Linked DNA regions of Homo sapiens: region 2 is linked to region 1. Evidence: fine-mapped expression QTL. A gene starts in region 1. The other region holds a variant in brackets. All regions are shown on one strand. Distances are between the middles of the regions.

Region 1 (8,512 bases):
ACAGATGCTTCCAGCCTTTCTCTGTCTGATCCCAGCCCTCCCCCAACCAAAGCTCTTGACAGAGAACCCCCTGCCCTACAGCTAATCCTCTTTCAGTCTCTTAGCCTTCTTCAGGGGTTGAGCCCAGTCTACCGAGTCTAGGATCCCTGCATGCATGTGCTCAAGCACACATGCACACACACACGTACACACACCCACACATGCATACACATGCACACATATCCCCCCACACACCCACATACACACACACACCCACACACCCACACATACACTTACACGCATGCACACACTGCTTTCCAAATCAGCTTGGAGAGACAGGCTGACTCCTTTCCCTCTTCCTCAGGCATCCTCTCTGGCCACGATAACAGGGTGAGCTGCCTGGGAGTCACAGCTGACGGGATGGCTGTGGCCACAGGTTCCTGGGACAGCTTCCTCAAAATCTGGAACTGAGGAGGCTGGAGAAAGGGAAGTGGAAGGCAGTGAACACACTCAGCAGCCCCCTGCCCGACCCCATCTCATTCAGGTGTTCTCTTCTATATTCCGGGTGCCATTCCCACTAAGCTTTCTCCTTTGAGGGCAGTGGGGAGCATGGGACTGTGCCTTTGGGAGGCAGCATCAGGGACACAGGGGCAAAGAACTGCCCCATCTCCTCCCATGGCCTTCCCTCCCCACAGTCCTCACAGCCTCTCCCTTAATGAGCAAGGACAACCTGCCCCTCCCCAGCCCTTTGCAGGCCCAGCAGACTTGAGTCTGAGGCCCCAGGCCCTAGGATTCCTCCCCCAGAGCCACTACCTTTGTCCAGGCCTGGGTGGTATAGGGCGTTTGGCCCTGTGACTATGGCTCTGGCACCACTAGGGTCCTGGCCCTCTTCTTATTCATGCTTTCTCCTTTTTCTACCTTTTTTTCTCTCCTAAGACACCTGCAATAAAGTGTAGCACCCTGGTACATCTGTGATGTTTGCCTTCTACTCTCTTCTGTTCCAAAAAGACCCAGGTCCCATTTAAGGGCAGTAATGTGTTACAGGTGCTGTGATAAAGGCTGGGTACTGGATAGCTTGTGGGCTTATGGGAGGAGGCCTGAGATGGGTCAGGGGGAGAAGGTATTCAGCAGGTGGCTGGGGGACTGTGTGCAGCAGTTCGCTATGGCCTGCCTGTGGTGCCCATGTGTTTGTACGGGAGGGTTAGCTTGAGAAGGAATCAGATTATAAAAGGTCTTGAATGTCAAGCCAGAGAGTCCAGACTTTTTCCTAAGGGCAATGAGAAGCCATTGAGGAGTTCTGAGCAGAGTAGTAACATGATCAGTTATGCTTCTCAGAAAGATTGCTCCAGATCTTTCAGAAAGAAGCAGTGTAGGTTGATGAAAGGGAGGGACTGGCACTGGGGAAACAAGGTAGGAGGCAGGTGGCAAGAAATGCAAGAGCGACAGGACAGAGGGGTTAGGGAGAGGGATTAGGAAGAGATTAAAGATGTGGAATCAGCTGGAACAGTGGCTCATGCCTGTAATCGCAGAGCCTTGGAAGGCTGAGGCAGAAGGATCTCTTGAGGTCTGGAGTTTGAGACAAGCCTGAGCAACATAGTAAGACCCTGTATCTACAAAAAAAATTAAAAATTACCTGGGCAGGCTGGGCATGGTGGCTCATGCCTGTAATCCCAGCACTTCAGGAGGCTGAGGCAGGCAGATCACTTGAGCCTAGGAGTTTGAAACCAGCCTGGGCAATATGGCAAGACCTCATCTCTATAAAAAAAATACAAAAATTAGCCAGGCGTGGTGGCTCATGCCTATAATCCCAGCTACTGGAGAGGCTGAGACAGGAGAATCGCTTGAGCTCAGGAAGTTGAGGCTGCAGTGAGCTGTGATCGTGCCACTGCACTCCAGCCTGGGTGACAAGAGCAAGACCCTGCCTCTAAAAAACAAGCAAACAAACAAAATGTGGAATCACCAGGATTTAGTGACCAAATGCTAGGATATAGGACATTGGGAGGGAAGGATTCGAGATAATGGCCAAGGTTTGGGTTTGGTGGCTGGGTAGATAATGCTGTCATTCACAAGGATAGGGAAGAGGGAATGAGGAATAGCTTTTGGGGGAAGATCATAAATTCAGTTTTAGACAAACTGACTTTGAAGTACTTATAAAGCAGCTGGATAAAGGTCAGGGTTAGAGAGAGAGACCTGAAAGTTACCAGAATATAGGGAAGTGATAGCTAAAGCCCTAGAAGTAAACACCCAGGGAGAGCAGGGCCAAGGACAGAGCCATAGGGACACCATGGTTAAAGGGAGATGTGCAAAGAAGGCTCAGAGCATCAGTGGGCTCAGGCCAGGGAACGCAAGCTCTCTAGGCCGCCATTCTACACACAGAAAACTCGGTGCAAGGTTTACATATACCTTTTTAAAGTAACATTTAAAATTACTTCCTTTAATATAAAAGAAACACACAAGACACAAAGAAAGCCCAATAAAGCTGTGAGTCCCAGTTTGGTAGCTGAGGAGGAGTCTAAGAAAACAAGCCATTCCTCAGTATCCCTGGGAAAGAAGGGGTGAGAGGACACAGATATCACCAGGCCCTGGGTGACTGCATTGCTGGGGCCATGCAGGGCCTAGCTCTCCACCAAGGGAAAGTGCTGATTTTCCTTGTCATGGTCCTGGCCTTGCTCCCATGCTCGTCCTCCAGTTTTCAGAAGTCGTCCAGTTCCAAGAATGGCTCCTTCCTTTAGTTCACTAACATTTTCACTTAGGGGTGAAGGCCGCTTACCCTGAAAACGGCAGTGTATGAGTTGGGGGGAGTTGCTGTTCAGAAGAGGGAAGATCTGGGTAAAAGGGTCTCCCACCCTCTACGTTGGATATCCTAGTAACAGCTTGCACTTTCTCTTCCTTTACCTGTCGTAGTGTCAGGGTGCCAGGGGAGTTGTCATCCTGCAGGATGGTGAGGGGGGATCTCCCTAGTACCTTGCTGCTGTTTGGTTTCCATCTATTGCGCATAGAACCTGGGGTGGGTAAGGCGTTAAAGCAAGGACCCAAAACTAGGACTTACAGTTTATTCCTCCCACACTCACCCATGGACCTTATCCCAAAACATTATCCTAGTTTATCTTCCCTGCATCTTGCCTTAGATTCTGTACCTGAAGATCTGGGAGTCTCAGGGTCCCTTGAGGGCTTGTCGGAGCTCTGGCTGGCCACAGGGGTTTCTGTGGGCTGTCTTGCTTCCTCCTTGGAAAACACCTGTTTGGAGGGGAACTCAGTCTGGTTCCAAGGTGGCATCTGTTCCTCAACAGATAACTGGGTACCCAGAGGCAAGTCCAATTCAGAAGATAAAGGTGCCTCTGGGGGCAGAACAGGCTCTGGGGGAAGATTTGATTTAGAGTCTTCAGTTTCAAATACTTCACTCAGCTGTTTCACCAGTGGGCTTGGGGGGTCTAGAGGAAGAAAGTGAAGTGAACAGTGACCTTCTGATACACAACATTCAGCAAGGAGCAAAACATACAGAAACCCAGGACTCATGCCCAGGAGGGTGAGCAAGTGGGAAGAGAGAAATCAAGGAAATCAAGGTGAAAGGGAGCAATTTTTTTTTTTTTTGAGATGGGGCTTGCTCTGTCCCCCAGGCTGGAGTGCAGTGGCGTGATCACAGTTCACTGCAGCCTTGACCTTGTGGGCTCAAGCAATCCTCCCACTTCAGCCTCCTGAGTAGCTGGGATCACAGGCCCATGCCACCGTGCTTTTGTGTGTGTGTGTGTGTGTTATGTGTGTGTATTTTTTCTAGAGATGGGGTTTTGCCATGTTGCCTAGGCTGGTCTTGAACTCCTGGGCTCAAGCGATCTGACCACCCCGGCCTTCCAACGTGCTGGGATTACAGGCATGAGCCACCGCACCCAGGCTGGGAACAAAATATTGAGATAAGAGTGAGATGGGTCCGAAGCAGGAGGATAGAGGCCCCTTTAAGGAACCCTGAGAGAATGGCTTCATGGACCCTACCCAAGAATAATAGATGACAGCTTCATCAGCATTCCCTGGGCCCAACGCTTACCTCCACTGCTGGTCTTCATAGGTGTCCGTGCAATACCAAGAGTAGGAGAGCGGGGATCTGAGTCCTGGGCATGTTTAAGACCCTCCAGTTGCTCCCCTGCTGGTAGGCCTGGCTGTGGAGAGCTCTCCACCTGTCAAGACCATAGGCTAGAACAAGTCTGGGCCCTGACTCTTCTCTCCTCTCCTCCCCATATTCCAGGAAGGAATTGCCAAGGCCCTCAGATATCCAGCCTACCCCACACAGATTGAGATTGCAGAAAATAAGGCTAGGATAAGGGTGGGGTCATGACGGCTCTCTCAAAATCAGGTTAGGAAGAGACCCAAGAATTCAGACATTCTCTGCCTTTCCCACGCTGGCCCAGAGTACCTGGATGGGAGTGCGCAGGATGCCAGCACTAGGTGAACGGGGGTCCGCCACTCGAGCCAGATGCTTGTTGTGCGGCGGAGGCCGCGCTGGTGTGACTGGGACGCTCTTGGCTGAGCCCATCTCAACCAGGAGTTGCAGGGTGGGGGCAAGGGCCAGCCCGGGACGAGGAGGGAATGCCTGTGAGAAGTGACTCAGGTCTCAGCCCTTATCTCTTCCACGTCGGACCTTCAACCCTAAACCACCCTGTCTTCCCAGTTTCCAGTGAAGAAACTTCCTGGCGAGGGACCAGAGGCCTCTGCGGAGTTAATGACTGCTGCAGCTGACAAAATGGCTCGTTCTGGGCCTGCTGAGCCCTCTAACTTATTTATTAAATTATTCAAATCACTTACCGGGCCCCAATTCCACCTCTGGATGCACAACAGCTCGTGGCTCAACTCCCGAAGTTACCAGTTTCAAACTTCCCGCCACGCCCCCTGCCCTGACCCTATTGGCTGAGCCGACGTAGTTCCCATAGGCCCTCCACGTAAGACCCGCCTCGAGCCAAAGGAAGCTGTTGGTCTGGGAGAACGTCTATCATGGTGACTGTAGGTGTCAATGGACTGATGCTAGGCTTGCCCAGGGGTGACGCCTCCTTGATAAGGGTACTTCTGTTCAGTATCGGCCTGCGAGCCGTCCGTGGCAGGCTGAGGAGTGCCAGTCTTCGCTTTCGAGACGTCTAGTCTCAAGAACGAATTATTAAACAAAATAGAATCATGAGTGATTACACTATTATGCGCACATCCAGCTGGAGTTGTGATGGTTTTCCTGAGGCGAGCGATAGTAGCTTTATTGGTTGACAGCTGTATCAGTCACTCGACACAACCCCCTCAAGCTCCGCCTCACTGGATACCCCCTTTACAAATACCAAGACAACTGTCCCTCGACTTTCCGACCGGACAGGTCCCCAGGAAACTTTCTGGAATTGAGAGGCCTAAAACAACCGTCAGTTCCTGCTCTTCAATAGAAGGCACGCGAATGGACTCTAAGGGTCCCGGAGCCGGAGCAGCTGCGGAGCCGCAGCAGCTGCAACCCCGAAGCCCACCTAGCTGCTCTACGTGCGCTCCCGCCCTGGAGGAGTGGGATTGGTTCTTTCAACCATCAATTGCCTTAGGAGCGCTTCTCATTGGCGTCAGTCAAGCGCGGGGCAGGGGCGGAGCACCGGCAGGCAGGCTCCGTCCAACTGCCATTCTCGCGCGTCGTCTCCGCGGCGCATGCCCCTAACGAGTGGCGCTCATTGGACGGGAGGGGCAGGGGAGGGGACTGGGAACGGTGGGAGCCGCCGTGTGTGGAGAAGCTGCTGCCGGTGTCATGGCGGAGCTGAGTGAGGAGGCGCTGCTGTCAGTATTACCGACGATCCGGGTCCCTAAGGCTGGAGACCGGGTCCACAAAGACGAGTGCGCCTTCTCCTTCGACACGCCGGTAAGCCCATTCCCCACGCCCGCAACGAGCACGACTTCCTTCCATCGCCCTGGTCATTCCGCTGGGGCCTGCAAGGCTTGGGCTACCGCCTCCCTGCGATGCACCATGGGACTTGTAGTCTCCCACGCTCCACTCTGCCGTTGCCTTTCATTAACTGCGGCTGTCGTGTGACTACCGTCCCCGGAAGCCGCCGCGCTCACCTCTCCGGCTCCCCGCTTCGTGGAGCACTGTGGGCATTGTAGTCACTCACTGCCTTCGTTGCCGTTCTAAGCTAGGGGCGCAGCCCGACCGTCGGACTACATCCCCCAAGTGGACCCTTGAGAAAACCTGGCAGTCGGCCTTGTCTGCCGCGCACGGCTCTCCGGGTTTTGTAGTCTCGTGTAGGAGTGATGGGGACGACTCCCCACTGTTCTCGGCCGGGGTTGGAGTTGGGGGGTGGGGACCGCAGTTCCTAGGCGGTTAATAGTCTGGGAGTGGACTCTCAAGAAGTCCGATTCTGAGAAAGGCAGAGAGCCTCCACCCCGTGGTTAAAACAGACAGGGGGCGGGGAGGGGAGGAAAGAGGAGAGGAAAGCTCTAGTCGTTTCTCCTTTGAAGTGAGCAATGGCCGCAGCCCCCACCCTTCCCCCCGCCCCCCAGCCTATCACAGACAGCTGAGATAACCCCTTTTAAAGTATTCCTAGAGAGGTGGTTTCTTTCTCGGAGGATGCTAAGGCCTCTTTCCCATCCCGCTCCCACTCTTGGCTAGTTACACAAAGCCACCTCCCACACCATGCTTCACGTTTTGCAGGCTCCACCTGGTACCTCCCTTCCTGCAGTTCTGCCTTCCCTATGTCACCCTCAAGCGGAGGCCCTTTGGGGCCTGAACTGAGAAGGCAGCAGCTTGGTTGGGATCCGCCCCCCTCACCACCCCTCCCCTCAAGCTGCTGTGCCCTGCCCAGTGTATTCTGCCAGAACCAGCTCATGGCCTGAAAACTGCAAGTCAGAGTGGAAAGCCTTCATTACTGCATCACCAGTACTGAGTAGAACAGCATGATGTGAGGCCCAGTTCAGGATCATCACTGTGATTTGTGGTTTGCTTGGTTTGCTAGGCTTTGATCTGGGCCTCAGACAATGTGCTGCTTCTCTGAAGTCTGGCTTTGGCAGAGGTAAAAGAGCACTGCGCGGAGCAGAGCTCCGGGGTTCCCAATCCTTGGTGAAATCAGCATCTTTAATTTCCAACAGAGGAGTTTAATCACTTCAGAGCTCCCACATTCTTCCCAGGAGGGAAAGGTTTTTCTTAAATTACCAGCAGGTGGTAGAAGTCAGTGGGTCCCTCTTTACACTTTTATTCACTCCTGTCTCTCTCCTTAGTAACTGCTTTGAATAATCCAAAAAGGGTTTTTGTAATCTTCTGAAACTTTCCCTTTTTCACCCCAAGTCAAGAGATTTTCAGTGTGCCCTAGTTCTTTGCTAACCAACTTCCAGCATATTTGGTTACCTTCAAATTGGGCTCATGGTAGAAAGAGCTTAGTTGACCTCCCCGGTGAGAAATGCTCTATTTGTTCATGAACTTGCAGTACACACTGTTCCTAGGAAGTGGTACAGAGCAATCTATGGGACCAAGAACTACCTTAGACAGTGCACTATTTTTCATATCACAGCAGAGAAATGTTCAAGGCCACTGAGACTTTTATTCCTGGAAGAGGATGTCTGTTGTTGCTCAAAGCCTTGGATCTGAGGGAAGACCCTTATTGTCTCCAATTTCCTCCTCCACCTTCTCCATCACTCTTTACAAAGGCACTGGAAAACTTGGTCAGCTTTGGGGGAAGCCCATCCTCCCTTCTCAGCTGTGTTTCTGGGTGGACACCCGTCTGTCCCTGTTTTCACGGGTTATGTGTGTTCTAGCTATCTCAGCAAGTGTTGCGAGATTGTTGTCAGAACGGGATGGCTTTGAGATTGGTGATTTGTTGGGACTTCAGCAGGGATCTTATTGGTCGGAGGGGAGGCAGAGGAGAGAGGGTGGTGGCTATGGAATGCTGGACTTCATGACCCTGCCAGACTGGGTGCATGTTTAGCTGTGAGTCCCTAACAAGTCATTGTTCCCCTGGAAGCCACACTTCAGCAGGAGAGGAGGGAGAAGACTCACAGTGTGGACCAGGGTTCGACTACCTGGTAGAATGTGGTAAAAGAAAGGTCTTTTTCGCTGGATGTTTAGTCTCACCGCTGTAATCCCAGCACTTTGGGAGGCCAAGGTGGAAGGATTGTTTGAGGCCACACAAGTTAAAGACCAGCCTAAGCAACATAGCGAGACCCCACCTCTAAAAAAAAAAAAAAAAAAAATCTAGGCATGGTGGCATGTGCCTGTAGTCCCAGCTCCTTTGGAGACTGAGGCAGAAGGATCACTTGAGCCGGGGAGGTTGAGGCTGCAGTGAGCTATGATCGTGCCACTGCACTCCAGCCTGGGTGACAGAGTGCAGTGTCTCTAAAATAAAATTTTTTTTTTTTTTAAAGGAAAGGTAATTTTGCTTGCTGGCACACTCGGGTCAGATATACTGTTCAAGTGCTGGAATCTCTGCTCCTCTGGTCTGGAAGGTTTTCTGAATCATGGAGATGAGATAGGGTTTGTCTTAGGTGTCCCCTGGTTTGGGTTCAGTGTCTCACATGAAAGTCTTTCCTCTCCCACGAAGGG
Region 2 (8,000 bases), 240 kb after region 1:
ATACCAAGACATCTCTTGGCTCCCCCATGGATGTGGCTCCCCCATGGATGTGGCTCCCCCATGGATGTGGCTCCTTCTTCCTTCTCCCCAGCCCATTACAGACAGGAGCATTGAGCCACACCACAGCAAGTCAGAGCAGAGCTAACTGATAGACCTGATCATCCTCTCTCTAGACTGTGGCCTGTTCCTACTGAGGTCCAGTTGAATCCCACAATTTGTAATTTGAAAAAATCACAAGCCACGTTTGAGTGTTTTCTGTATCAAAACAAAAGCCTGTGCTCCAGGGCAGAACTGTGTTTCTCTTGCTGGTGTCCCCTGCCTCCAGGCGTGCATCACTTTATCTCTCCTGGGTTGCAGTTTTCCTAAGGACAGAGGCCTTCCCTAAAATACTAGAGCCACCTCGCAGCTTTGAAAGGTGCTGGAGACGTTGATGTATGTGAAGTGCTGTTGCTATTGAGCAGGGACAAGACTAGGAAATGGCAGTCTTTGAAATGAAAAGTTACTGGACAAATGAATAAGTTTTACTAAGACCAAAATTCGGCCAGGTGCAGTGGCTCACGCCGGTAACCCCAGCACTTTGGGGGGCTGAGGTGGGCGGATCACTTGAGGCCAGGAGTTCGAGACCAGCCTGGGCAACATGGAGAAACCCTGTCTCTACTAAAAATACAAAAATTAGCTGGGCATGGTGGCGCACGCCTGTAATTCCAGCAACTCGGGTGGCTGAGGCACTTGAATAGCTTGAATCCAGGAGAAACACTTGAACTTGGGAGGCGGAGTTTACAGTGAGCTGAGACCATGCCACTGCCTGGGTGACAGAGCAAGACTCTCTCTCAAAAACAAAACAAGACAAAACAAAAAGACCAAAAATCATTCCATGGAGTTAGCCCTGGAAAAGGTTGTAAGAGAATGTGTATGAGAACTAGAACGTCTGAGTAAAATGTAGGTAATGTGAGAAACCGTGTGACTTGCTTTAAATTCTATGATGTGAATAACAAATGCAAAAGTAAGGGCAGTGGGTGGTGCAGGCAAGGGAGGGTTGTAATAGGAGCAAAGAGGTTGGTAGTCTCCATTCTTCTGGACCCAGGACACCCACCCAATCCTCCTGATGGAGCTGGAAGCACCTTGGAGTAAAGAACAATGCATCAGGTGAACTCGACTTGATGCAACATTCAAATGTGAGCTCCACAAAGGCTGTGTGACTATGTGGGTTTCTTTTTACTGAACCTCCCACATCTAGGACAGTGCCTGACAGTAGACACTTAAAGTGTGCATTAAATGAATTAACTGTGACTTAAGGACATATCCTAGGTCTCTTCTTTGATTCTGATTAAGTGTTCCATGTGGACCTGTTGAACAACGATGGGATGTCCAGTCTTGGGTCTCTGTCCAGAGACAGAGATTTTTAGTTTACCAGCTTTTGTGAGATTGATCAATGGATAAAACCATATTCCCTCCTGAATCTGCAGAGCCGAGGACAGGACGGTGGGCGCAGGGGGAGACCACCAACATGTGTAAAAGAGCCCCGGAGCAGGAGGCAGGAGATTGGCGTCCTAGTCCCTGCCGTACACAATCGCTACGTGATGTTGACGAGTCACTACATCTCCACCCTGCCTTTTCAGTTCCTTCAGCTCTCTTGAGTTATTGGACTAGGGCAATAGTTCTTAAACTTGGCTGTGCATTAGAATCACCTGGGTAGCTTTAAATAGTCTTGATGTTCAGGCTCTACTCTAGATCAATGGAATCAGAGTCTCTGTTGGGGGCCCTCATCTTCAGTATTTATTTGCTTATTTTTATTTTTCAGAGACAGAGTCTTGCTATATTGCTCAGGCTGGAGTGCAGTGGCTATTCACAGGGGCCTTGAATGAATGGGCTCAAGCAATCTTCCAGGATTTTAAACTCTCTGTTTTAAGTGTGCAGCAAGTTTGAGAGCTGGTGGACCAGGAGACTCTTCCAGCTGAAACGTCTACGACTCCAGCTGGGGTGAGACTAAATCCTCTGTGAACCCACCACCTGAATTCCTCCTGGGGTGCTGGGCCGGCTCTCTCCCCTCAGCCCTGGGCTCTTACCTCTATGAGCTGGTAGCCTTGCTTGCAGGTAGCAATGAAGTAGTCACGGAACTGGTACTGAGGCTGCAGGTTCTGGATGATGGTGAACTCGTCTAGGGTCTTGGGCTGGGGGCACTTGATGACTGTTGGGGAGACCAGGGGGCATATTTATTTCAGAGCCACTTGTCCTTCCTTCTTCCCCCCTTTTCCCCATTGCTGGCCATCGAGGGAGGCCTGCAGGGAGCCTTACTCTCGGTGGTGTAGCGCAGCTTCCAGCCCCGGCTGTCCCCCGACTCATCTGTGAAGAACAGCAGATCCACAGCATTGCTGCTGGTGTCGAGGTCGGGGGGCCTTTGCTTCCCACAGAACTCGCCAATGTTCTTCCCGTTGGCATAGATCTAGTAGGGGAGGAGGGTTTTTTTTTTTCAGCTTGGACGTTTTTACACAGGGCCAACTGGGTAGTAGCCTGGTGGCCAGGGTGGTGGTGGTGGTGATGAAATCCTGCCTTATGTGTGTTTTCAGGGGAAGGTGAAAAGGGATCCCCATGACCCAATTCTAGTTGTGTGGGAACTTACCCAGCCCATGGGTGATGTTGGCCGTTCCTGCCCCAGCTGGCCAGGGGATCCAGGAGGAAGTTGGGACAAGAGGAGCCAAGTGCAGACAGAAGGGGAGGAAGGGGTCTTTCAGGGGTAGGACGGCTGTACCTGTAGCTGGTCATAGGGGCAGTGTACTTGCTGGTGGTCATCAATATCAAAAGGCTCCAGGAACTTGAGGTGCAGGGTGAGGCCCCGCTCCACCCGGATGCTGTAGTTGCAGCGCAGGTCAGGGGGGTAGGACCGAGGGTACTCCAGGCTGGAGATGTAGCCTGATGCCTCCGTGTACAGCTCGCTGCTGCACTCAGCTGTGAGAGCAGAGCCACAGGGCATTACGGGGGACTCCAGCTGGCCCAGCAAGCCCTGGCTCAACCCCTTCCCCTCTGCTACACCACTCTGGCTCACCCTGGCAGGAATGCCTGTCTTCCTGAAGCTCATAGCCTGGACGGCAGGAACAGAAGTAGCCTCCAACGTAGTTGTGACACAGGTGCTGGCACTGGGGCTGGGGATCCTCCTCCCCTGATTTGCTCCGGGAAGCACATTCATCAAGGTCTGGAAGGCATTCAGGAAGGAGGGTTAAGCTTCTGCTGGGAGACCTGAGTAGTGGCTCTGATCTTAGGGAGGTCACTCACCAGAGACCTAAAGACAAAGGCATCTTTAGGCCACCTGGACCTCCAGGCCTCTCCAATGCTCTCTGGGGACTGCTCCATGGGGACAGAGCCCAGGTTGACAGGCCTCGTTAGGAAAAGCTCTCTCGAGGGGAGGAACAAGGAAAGCCAGGCTTTCGGCTTCTTTGCATTCAAGATTCCCTTTCTTGGCCCCCCATTCAATATGGCTGAGGTCAGAGAAAAGGGATCCCTGGGGGGCTACTCACCCACAGCTTGGTAGTAGGCCAGGAAGCCCTTGTAGAACATGATGGTCCCATTCTCCTCGTTGGAGAAGTCTGTGTGGAAGGTCAGCAGCATCTTGTTCCCTTGGGACATAAATTCCTTCTTTCCCGGGGGGTTGCCCAGTGGAGAACCCAGTTGCCCACAGAACCTCCCCAGGCTTTTCTTATCAGCAGAGATCTGGTGGAAGAAGGACAGGGGGTAGGAAGAAGATCTGTTGCGGAGTGGCGCACGTGGTGGCTCAGTGATGGTCCTCCTTGTCTCGCCCAGAGTGCATCATGCACCACA[A/G]TGGCTCTGGCTGGTCACTACCTGCTGGGCTCAGCTGCTGCAAACTTCCCCATGTGACTTTCAGCTGTTCCCTGAGTCTCCCACTGACTCACTCTTTGCGTGTTGTCCTGGACTGGGTACCTCACCCTTTCCCTGTTTTCTGCTCCTCTGGCAGGTTTCAGGTCCTTCTCCATCCCCACCACCTCCTATGGCCTGTTCCCCTGGGGTCCTGGTTGTCTGTACCCAGCCTTTACCTGCCCCTCATTCCCAGAGCTCAGACAGCTCCGCTTTATTTTCTGTCTTCAGATTCCACCTCAGCCTAATCAAACCATTCACACCTCGAGTGCCTCCTGATGCCCTCGGCGGAACATGAGCCCTGAAGCCCACCCATCTCAGTGTCAGCAGGCACTGCCTCGTCCCTCTTCCTTCCTCCTCACAGCCTCCTCAACCTCTCCTTGACTCTGCCAGCAAACGCCCTCCCCCAACACTGCACACTCGCCAAGTCTTCTGAGCCGGTAAGACGTGCCATTGTCATGTAATTCACGCATAATCTCCAGGGGTCTCCTGGGAATGGTAGTTGTTGGACCTTCGCAGGCTCTGCTTGAGCCCTGAATCTCATTTTTACTGGATAGAGAAAGACAGGCCTGGGAAGGTACCCTTGGTTGCCACAGAGGTGAGGGTTCTGAGCACACTGTCCTTGCTGAAGGCTATTCCTGTGCTGCCAGAGCCCACATTTCTCCTCCTCATGTCCCTGTGTTCCTGTTGAAGCAGGCAGCCATGTCAATCATTTCCTTGGAGACAGGGAAGCTGAGGCACAGTGGTTTCCCAAAGACTCTCAGCTAGACAGCAGATGGGGAAGGTTTTCCTGACTCAGTGGATGTTGAATTTCCTGAGTGGGTCCTGTCCCCTTCCTTCTCTGTGCTTCTCCCCTCAGTGCTCACCGAGGGCCTCTACACCAGTGAGCGCCCATCCAGGGCATCCCCGGGCTCTCAGAGAGGCCGTTGGCCATCAGCTCTTGTGGGGCTGGGCTGTGTCTGGGGGTGTGCATGCCATACAGATCCCAGATCCCAGAGGGCCCAGTTTTGTCTCCCCTCTGCCCGCCCATCCTGCCCCTACCTTGACATAATCATAGAAGCAGCCTTCAGAAGGCTCCAGGTCAAACTGCTGGAAGACGAGCTTCACCCTGTATCCCGTGGGGACTGTGATCACAGTGGTTGTTTCAAAGTTGTTGGGGTAAGGCTTGGGGAACAGAGGGGAAGTCACCTCCCCAAATAACTTCTGAGGGATGGGAATGGAGCCTCCTGCCCTGCAGAACAGGGCCGGCACCAGGAGGTACAAGAGCCACCTGCCAAAACAAAAGAGAGTATCTGGAGCTGGAGGGGTTCAGCACTCTTGCCATGTGGGCAGTGGCTGTGGCAGGGGATGAGACGGCCATACCACTGGGCATTCTCCTCTCTGCCCACCCTGAACCTCACAGACATGTTCTCAGCAGGGGTGCGTGGGTGGGGAGGATGGCCTGTGCAGCTGCTGCATCGGGTCACTCTCCAGGGCAGTGTCCAGTCCAGAGGCCACCACACTCCCCTCACACTCCCTTTCCAGCCTCCTCCCCTGCCCGGACGCGTCCCTCCCCTCCCCTTCCAGGAATAGGACTGGCTTGGGACCAGTTAATGGAGGGTGAGGGTTTCCACCCGTGGGTCTCTGAAAGGGCTCCCACAGGTTCAGCAAGAGCGTCTGGGAGAAACCATCTGTGGAGTGGGGGACACAGGCACAGAGTGTCCCGTCCTGGGCAAGGGGTCCCCTCCTCTCGCTGCTCCCTGCCAAGAGCCCAGAGGGAAGAAAGGACCATGGCATGAGCATCTATGTATGAAGTCTCCTCTGATCCCTAGGAGGAGGGATGGGGCGTGTGTTGTGTGTGTCCACGCGTGTGCACAGTGGAACTGATGAGGTGTGTGAAGAGAGAAGGGTGTTCCTGTCTCCCTGAATTGCCTCCCATGCCCTGGCTTCTCCCCTGGCTTCTCCCTCCCACCTGGTTGCCCATCACCCTTACTCACATTTCTCAAGGCCCGTGTTGAATCCTGGGCTCTCCCGACAGCGTCTTCGTGCACTGTGTGCAGAGGGAGCCCGCGTCATGCACAGCAGGGAGGGGAGGGTTTTCTGTGGAGTGGAGGGGGGACCATTCCCGGAGGAATGTTGGAGGGAATGAACTATTTGCATAAACAAAAGATCTGAGTTTCCACTTTAATTTAGTTTTGGTTTTGAAATCCCTGTTTGTGGTGCCACCTGCTGGTCGGTGAGGGAAAGGGCTAAGGAGACGGGAGTCTGGCTTTTTAGGGCCCGGGGAGCCTTGGGTTGGAGGCCCAGATGTCTCAGTCTCTAAATCTGATCAGCTTCTCCCTTCTTCCAAGACTTTCCTGGGGGCTGCTGCTGTGTTTACAAGGTTCCTACCAAAGCAGTGGGAGACCACAGGTGGTGGTGAATTCTCTTTTCTGGGCTGTCCTTTCCCATTGACCCTGTTCTTCCTGCCCTCATTCAGCCCACAGCCCTGGTCCAAGAATGGCCCGGGTTTCAATGCCCAGGACGTAATGATAGGAACACTGGGGCAGAGGAGGGTGTGTGGGAGCGGGCAGAGGAGAGAGGAGCTTGGTTGCCTTGGGGCCCTGGCCTGCTTTAGCCATGAATGACACTTGGACATAGAATAGGGTTGGCCATGTCAGGGCAACCCTAAATCAGCCCTGGGTTTGAGACCCTCTGGGGCGGCTGCGGAGGGGGTAAAATGTCCCCATCTCCTTAGCATCTGCTCAACACAACTGCCAGGGCTGAAGCTAAGGATGCGGGTGTGGAGCAAGAGGGACTCGGTTTTTCTGAGATGAAGCCAGGCCCCTGGGAGGGAGGAGGGACCCTAGTCTCTCCTGTCCATCAGGCCATAGTGTCCTGCTTTAAAACTTTTGCTCTTGGCCACGTGTGGTGGCTCATGCCTGTGATGCCAGCACTTTTCGAGGCCAGGGTGGGAAGATCTCTTGAGCCCAGGAGTTCGAAACCAGCCTGGGCAACATAGTGAGATCTCGTCTCTAAAAGTTAAAATAAATTAAAAAACAATTTCATTGTTTTTGGAAGGCTTTCTTCATCAACTCTCCATGGCACCAAATATCTGATGGCACTTCATCCCACGGAGGGGCTTGGGCTGCAGAGCAGGACTCTGCGTTCTTAAGCCTTTGTAGGCTGTTCTGCTTGTTTCCCTTATTAGATGAATCCCTCCAACCTCCACCCTTCTGCCCCCACCCCCGTTCATCCATTTATGGGCTACCTGTTTAATGTGCAAGACACTTTCCCAGGCAATAGATTGCAAGAATTCACAGAGCTGATGCAGTTCCCCATCAGGCAGTGACCACATCATCAGTAGTTAGACAGCAGGCACACAGAAGGTGCAAGATCCACCAACGCTTGGAGGGTTTCTCCAGCAGGCCTGTGTGTCAGAGCTGAGGACTGAACCTAACGGAGGGCTGGTCTGTGATGGGATCAGCATATGATCCACAGCCTTGTTAGATCAGGAAAGACAAAAGATGGGGGAGAAGGAAAAGCACCAGATCAGAGGACGAGAAGGAAGGGGAATCTCGTCTAACAAACTGCACATTAATATCCTAGCAGCAGTTTGTGTGTGTGTGTGTGTGTGCACGCGCGCATGTGCCGTATGTTCATAATGGAGGCAGAGGGAACAGGTAAGGAGGTAAGTCTTAGCTGAAGCTCTTCCGTCCATCCTAGGGATTCTCAGTTCTGCGTTGGCATTGTGCAACACGCTTGGAGAGCGGCAAACCTGGATGTCATTAGCTCAGTCCCAGCCCTGTCTCCACTCTGCCCAACCATTCAAAATAACCTTTACTCACACATTTTTGTTATGTCCTTGACTTTGTTTTGTCCTTGACTCATACCAAGAAGGAAAAAAATGCCATATGAAATGCTGCTGCGTTTGTTTTAAAACAATTATTGAGGATATAGTCGGTTACAGTGTTTGTTCCTTTAAGGATTTGATTCTTGGGAAAAAGATTTCTCTCTTAAAGTAGTGGTAGGTTTTCCTCTGTGGATATGTCTCTATCGCTAGCTCATCTATCTCCATCATCTCTATCTCTTACCTCCCTCTCTCTCTCATTGTCGATATCTCTATCTCTAGACAGAGACAGCGATGGAGATGTAGAGATATAGATCTAGACATA

What was found.
Region 2: its variant is fine-mapped to the expression of CDCA3 in gastroesophageal junction (GTEx, PIP above 0.99).

What each region holds. Positions count from the first base shown.
Region 1 is chr12:6,846,449-6,854,960 of GRCh38, forward strand. It overlaps CDCA3 (cell division cycle associated 3), which reads right to left and starts at 4,838. Exons shown (of 6, transcript NM_031299.7): 1 at 4,774-4,838; 2 at 4,385-4,561; 3 at 4,019-4,148; 4 at 3,117-3,410; 5 at 2,875-2,981; 6 at 2,380-2,750. The coding sequence starts at 4,504. The coding sequence ends at 2,595. It overlaps GNB3 (G protein subunit beta 3), which reads left to right. Exons shown (of 10, transcript NM_002075.4): 10 at 344-945. The coding sequence ends at 450. It overlaps USP5 (ubiquitin specific peptidase 5), which reads left to right and starts at 5,702. Exons shown (of 20, transcript NM_001098536.2): 1 at 5,702-5,842. The coding sequence starts at 5,732. RefSeq lists silencers at 4,844-4,893, 5,564-5,673, 6,644-6,693 and enhancers at 5,054-5,333, 5,340-6,300, 5,404-5,453, 5,724-6,363.
Region 2 is chr12:7,086,544-7,094,543 of GRCh38, forward strand. C1R (complement C1r) reads right to left here and starts at 5,902. Exons shown (of 11, transcript NM_001733.7): 1 at 5,844-5,902; 2 at 4,909-5,137; 3 at 3,513-3,705; 4 at 3,044-3,190; 5 at 2,750-2,946; 6 at 2,296-2,443; 7 at 2,067-2,188. The coding sequence starts at 5,845. RefSeq lists an enhancer at 5,950-6,244. The variant A/G (reference allele first, on the strand shown) is at 3,814.